2 separate regions of the Homo sapiens genome follow, and region 1 is linked to region 2. The links come from fine-mapping of genetic effects on gene expression. A gene starts in region 2. The other region holds a variant in brackets. All regions are shown on one strand. Distances are between the middles of the regions. Region 1 overlaps MAP3K21 (mitogen-activated protein kinase kinase kinase 21). Region 2 holds the start of MAP3K21 (mitogen-activated protein kinase kinase kinase 21).

The links. PIP is the estimated chance that this variant, and not a neighbour inherited with it, causes the effect.
Region 1: its variant is fine-mapped to the expression of MAP3K21 in prefrontal cortex (BrainSeq, PIP 0.95).

Annotation. Positions count from the first base shown.
Region 1 is chr1:233,384,529-233,387,441 of GRCh38, reverse strand. MAP3K21 (mitogen-activated protein kinase kinase kinase 21) reads right to left here. Exons shown (of 10, transcript NM_032435.3): 10 at 2,294-2,913. Among named protein-coding and RNA genes, the nearest start is that of MAP3K21, 58 kb to the right of the region's middle. The variant GT/T (reference allele first, on the strand shown) is at 1,400.
Region 2 is chr1:233,326,398-233,329,310 of GRCh38, reverse strand. It overlaps MAP3K21 (mitogen-activated protein kinase kinase kinase 21), which reads right to left and starts at 1,587. Exons shown (of 10, transcript NM_032435.3): 1 at 478-1,587. The coding sequence starts at 1,282. It also overlaps a transcript of PCNX2 not described here. RefSeq lists silencers at 944-1,143, 1,333-1,484, 1,284-1,583, 1,774-2,073.

The DNA of each region.
Region 1 (2,913 bases), 58 kb before region 2:
TAGCTGGGACTACAGGCGCCTGCCACCACAAACAATAGCTAGTTTTTGTTCCACTCTCTGGTACCGATTACATTGTTTCATTCACAAATACTTCATCTTTCACTATGTTTCAGCATGTTGATCTTTGCAGAAGTAAAGAATAGAGACAGCTTAAGCCCAATTAAATTATTTTATGTGTATATTGCAGTTCTTACATAATTTCACCATATTTATTGTCTTAGTCCATCTGGGCTGTTATAACAAAATAACATAAAGTAGGTGGCTTCTAAACAACACACATTTGTTGCTCACAGTTCTGGAGGCTGGGAAGTCCAAGATGATGGTGCTGGCAGACTCTGTGTCTGCTGTGGGCCTGTTTCCTAGTGTATATATAGCAGTTTCTCACTGTGTCCTCACATGGTGTAAAGGGATAACAGCTTCCTTCAGGCCTCTTTTAAAACAGCATTAACCCCATTCATGAGAATTCATGATCTAATTACCTCCCACCTCTTAATTCCAAAACTTTGATGGTTACGATTTCAACATAGGAATTTTGAGGGACATATTCAGACCATGGCATTTATGAACCTATTGAACAGAATACCTCATTTCTCTGAGTTGATCTATCAGATATGCATATTTTACTCCTTTCTATTGCATTTTCCATTGTATTAAGTGTTATTAGCTAATAGTGTTTTATTTTTAAATAAGTACTGTGAAAGTTAATAATACAAATTGGGCAATTCTTGTCATACATACTCAGTTAAATCAGAACTGAGGGGCCAGAGAGGAAAACATACGTGGGGGACATAGCACCTACTCCACGAATGTATTTTCTCCAAGCCCAGCTGCTGAAATGGCCTGCTGTCACCCCAGGGCCAGTTTTACCTGGTAGCTGCTGAAGCAACAATTTGTGACTCTAAGACTTGTTTTAATTCCTGCCATGACTCACCAACCAGAGCTTGCCAGAGTCCAAAAGCTTCTCTAGTGCCAATGAGCTTTCTTTCAAAACAATATGTAACAATTCTTTAATAAAACTCCTGTCTCTTTGTTCTTTGGACATACTGAAGATCACCTGGTCTCTGTGTATGTCCTGAATTGCAATTCTTGCTTCCTAAATAAAATGTTTCAAATTTCAATATTTATCTCTATATCTTATTTAACTTCAATGGTACTCATACATTTTTAGACTTTTGACTTTTTGATGAGAGAGAAACTACCTTAGCTTTAGATAACATTTACAAAGCTCATTTGCAAGATGTCCTCATCTTCTACACCATGCTTACAACTATTAACCACAGGTGTGAACAGGTAGATGGTGATCACTTGACTCAGACTGGGTCTTTGGAAATTTACCAAACCTTTCTGTGTCTGTTTCATATCTAATGCGATAGGAGTAGTATTACTTATCTCACAGTTT[GT/T]TTTTTTTTTTTTTTTTTTTTGAGATTAAGTCTCACTCTGTCACCAGGCTGGAGTGCAATGGTGCGATCCCGGCTGACTGCAACCTCTGCCTCCCAGATTCAAGCAATTCTTCTGCCTCAGCCTCCTGAGTAACTTGGATTACAGGCGGGCACCATCATGCCAGACTAATTTTTTGTATTTTTAGTAAAGAAGGGGTTTCACCATGTTGGCCAGGATGGTCTCGATCTCTTGACCTCTTGATCCGCCCACCTCAGGTTCCCAAAGTGCTGGGATTACAGGCGTGAGCCACCATGCCTGGCTTTCTCTCACAATTTTTATTAAAGAGAATTACAGGAGTTGTCTTCTATAGGCACCTAGGAGGGTTCCCCATACTTAACAGATATTCAATGCACATTACGTTTTGCTCCCTCCCATGTGGTGGGGTAATGCTATGATCTCCATGAAGTCCTGCGATCTGCTTTCCTCATTCACTCAAGCTTTTATCACTTAGTAAGAATTTCTACATGTTAAGTGGTGTTTGAAATTCCTCTGATTTAAACATAAAATTAAACAATAAAATCAACATGTCTCCTTAATCACTGAGATTTTTTTCTCATACTCATTTCACTCTGCAAAAGTGTGTCTTCTGAAAAGCTGGACTTGCAAAACGCTCACCATGAAATATAACTTTTCAATGCATATGTAAACCAAAAAAATTTGAAATAAAACATTTCATTCTACCTTTTTTGATGTATTTAATTGAATGACTCATTTAGTGATTTTCAGTTTAATATATTTAGCAGGTTAATACCTGGCTTATTAAACAATAATCTTTATTAACACAATTTTTCTTATTGAATACAAAATAAACCATTGCAAACTATAGTCACAATAATCAAGAGAGGATCAAAGCTACTGAGCAAATAGACCAGCTATAAAAGTTTATTAAAAAAATAGACAACATATGTAAACATATTTTTCAGTCACAAGGCTTCATAATACAGCACATTAGGCCCAGGCCTTAAATCTCTGCAGTGAGAGTACCTTAATTTTTTACTAACAGTAATTGACTTATCTTTCAGTGAACATTAAGCCTACACAAAAATAAATAACCAGATTCTGCTAAGTTTACTAACACAGAAAATTGCAAATGTACAATAGATTGCAGCAAAAGTTAACTATCTGCAGTAACATGTGAGATTGAATTGTTATATTACAATTATTTTAATACAGCTTCATTTTGAAATTCATCATAATGTAGAGTTGACTAAAATAAAGCTAAAGGGGAATAATAACAGAGATAAACAAACACCCAGATCACATACACTCCCCAACACACACATGCAAACACACATTTACTAATATGCATGCACACACACACACGCCAACATACATGCACACACATACAGGGATGTTTTGGTAGAAGTAAAACTGAGGACATAGTTTCCATCCTTTTTCTTTCATGTATTGATGATTTTAGGTATATATTTCTCTACCCTTAAGCTGGAAGCTACGTGTTCCAAAAGGACTGAA
Region 2 (2,913 bases):
TTGAATAGGCAAACAGCAACCTCAATACAGCACTTGTAAAGTTGACGTCCCCGAGTGCATTCGGGGACTTTGATGAAGGCCACCGGGTGAAGACGGTCATGGGTTCCATATAATCTGCAGAAGGCCTCGGTTTGCAAAGTCCTACCCAGATGAATCACCTCTGGTATTGAAAGGCCAGACTGCCCCCTGAGGTTTCTAGGAGATCCAGGTATTTTACAAATGTTTCCTCTACAAGCAAGTCTGGTCTGAACTTTTTTAAAAAGCACCCAAAGGCAAGTCAAGGTTAAGCGTGTCACCAGCCCCAAAGCAAGTAACCAAGGACTAGCTGGACTTCCGAGCCCTGAAGGCCTGGGCATGAGTTGCTGCTGGCGCCCTAAGGCTGACTCCCACCTCTTTCCATCTGGTACTATGTCCTGTGGAGCCCGCCTGGGCTGGCACGGAGGTAGTCTTCCCCCACCTCCCTCTGGCCCCACTTACTGTTGCTGGACTTGAGGTCCCGGTGCAGGATGGGCACGAAGGCCTCCTCATGCAGGTAGAGCATGCCCCGCGCTATCTGCACGGCCCAGTTGACCAGCACGTGCGGAGGGATGCGGCGCGCGCGGCGGGGGCCGGGCGCGCGCGGGTCCGGGGCGGCGTTGGCAGCGGCCAGCGCTCGGTTGAGCGCTCCGCCGCGGGCGAACTCCAGCACCAGGCAGAGGTGCGGCTGCTGCAGGCACACGCCGCGCAGCTCGATGATGTTGGGGTGCCGCAGCATGGCGAAGAGCCGAGCCTCGCGCCGCACGCTCTCGGCAGCCGCCGCCGCGTCCTGCTCCGGGTCCTGGCGCGCCGCCTTCACGGCCACCTCCTGGCCCTGCCAGGTGGCGCGGTACACCTGCCCGAAGCCCCCAGCGCCGATGAGCTCCTTCAGCTCCAGCCGCTCGAAGGCGACGTGTACCGGGGAGCTGGGCCGCGAGGGCGGCGGCGCGGGGCTGGCGGCCGGGCGGCAGGGAGCCACGTAGTTGGCGGGGAAGATGCCGAGGCGCCGCTGCACCTGGCCTGCCCACCAGCCCTCGTCGCCCGACACGGCGGCGTCCTGCGACAGCACCTCCACCAGCTGGCCGCGCCGCAGGCTCAGCTCGTCCTCGCCGCGAGCCTCGTAGTCATAGAGCGCGGCCCACAGCCCCGCGCCCGCCGAGGCCGAGCCGCCCGAGGAGGTGGACGACGAGGACGCTGAGCCGCCGGGGGCTCCCCCGGCCGAGGACACCGGGGTGTCGGTCGCTCCCGCGGCGCCCCGCAAAGCCATGGGGGCAGCTGCGCGGGGAAGGCGGAGCGGGAAGCTGGGCTCAGCCTCCCGGGCGGCCGCGGGCGCGCATCGTCCGGCGGTGTGGCCGTCGGCGCCGGGGGAAGGCGAGGGGGTAGGAATCGCGATCGGTGACGGCAGAGATCACGGGCTAGCTGCCCAAAGGGTCCAGCCTCGGCCCGCGTTCCTGGCCAGCCGCCTCTGCTGCCGCAGCGGTCCCCGAAGCCGCGGGCGACGTCCCACCATGGTCGTGCCCAGGCCCTGCGGCCGGCCCGCCCGCCGCGCGCTCCTTAGCCAGAGCCTGGGACGCCCCACCCCACCCTAGCCGCGCCAGGGCCGCCCCGCCCCCTCCGGCTCCATTCCGCACCGCCCCCCCACCCCCCCGGGCCCGCCCCTAGGCCAGTCCCCAGGGCCTTCCCGCCCCTCCCCCAGCCGCCCCGCCCTCTCCAGGTTCATTCCGCCCTCCTTGACCCGTCCCGGGCGCCCAGTCTGCGCCCGCCCTATGGGACCGCCTTCCTAGGTTCGCCCCACCCTTCCCCACCAACTGCACCATCCCGCCCCGCCCTCGCCAGGTTCACTTCCCTTTTCTGTGCCAGTCCCCAGAGCCTCGTCCCGCCCCTGGCGCCCGGGCCCGTCCCCCACCACCTTGGGCCGGGCCCGCCCCCTGGGCCCGCCTGGCTGGTCCCACCCCGCCCCCGCCGCAGGTGCTCCGGAGCAATGGTGAGCCGCGCCCACATGGTCTGGGAGGCGGGATCGGCCGTCATCCGCTATAAATTTTCGGGAGAGTTTAAATTAAGCCAAAGGTAAGACTGAGGGAGGGGACGCTTCTCCAAGAAGCGGTGGGAGAGGGTTGAGAAGATGTGGGGCTTTAGGGTGTGGCGGGGAGAGAGAGAGTTGCAGTTCAGGGAGAGTGACAGAATCTCAGAACGGGCTACAGAAGAAATTGTAGCGCGGTGCCAGACCTGGGCCAGTGCGAGTGGCAAGTCACCATGCTAAGTGCGTTTGAGCCACCGTGCATCTCAGAACTGACTAGGTTACAGATCGCAGCGCAGAGTGACCCGTGGTCGGTATAGTCCCAGAAGCTCCATGATGGTAAATCCTTTGCTTATTTTTACTGTCTACTCAGATGGAAAATGCCCCAGTCTCCCTGGAAACCCACAGGTTTGGGTTTAGGAAGCATTGGCAATGGCTGGGTGCCAGACGTTGGTAGGTTACTGTGGCAGGTGATGAGGCTAAAAAGATAGAAGAGCTTAGTTATTAAAATTCTAAAATATTAGATTATCCTGTAGTAGGCCAGAATTTCCTAACGTGTGGATCCTGTACTTCCAATAACAGAAGGGACAATTTTAGATATTATGAGGATAGGACATACAGTAACATTCTGAGTTACATAAAGATAAATTTATTGTCTTTTCAGTTTTCTTTGTCTCTCAGATCAAACTATTTATTGGCTGTGTGACCTTGAGCAAGTTTCTTTATTTCTCTATGACTCAGTTTTCTCATCTATAAAATGGGAATATAATAAATAGTACCTACTTTATAGGGTTTTTAGGAAGACTAAATGAGTTAATAGTTTTACAGTGGGTCTTCTGCATCCACAGAATCAACCAACAGCTGGTCAAAAATGTTTTTTA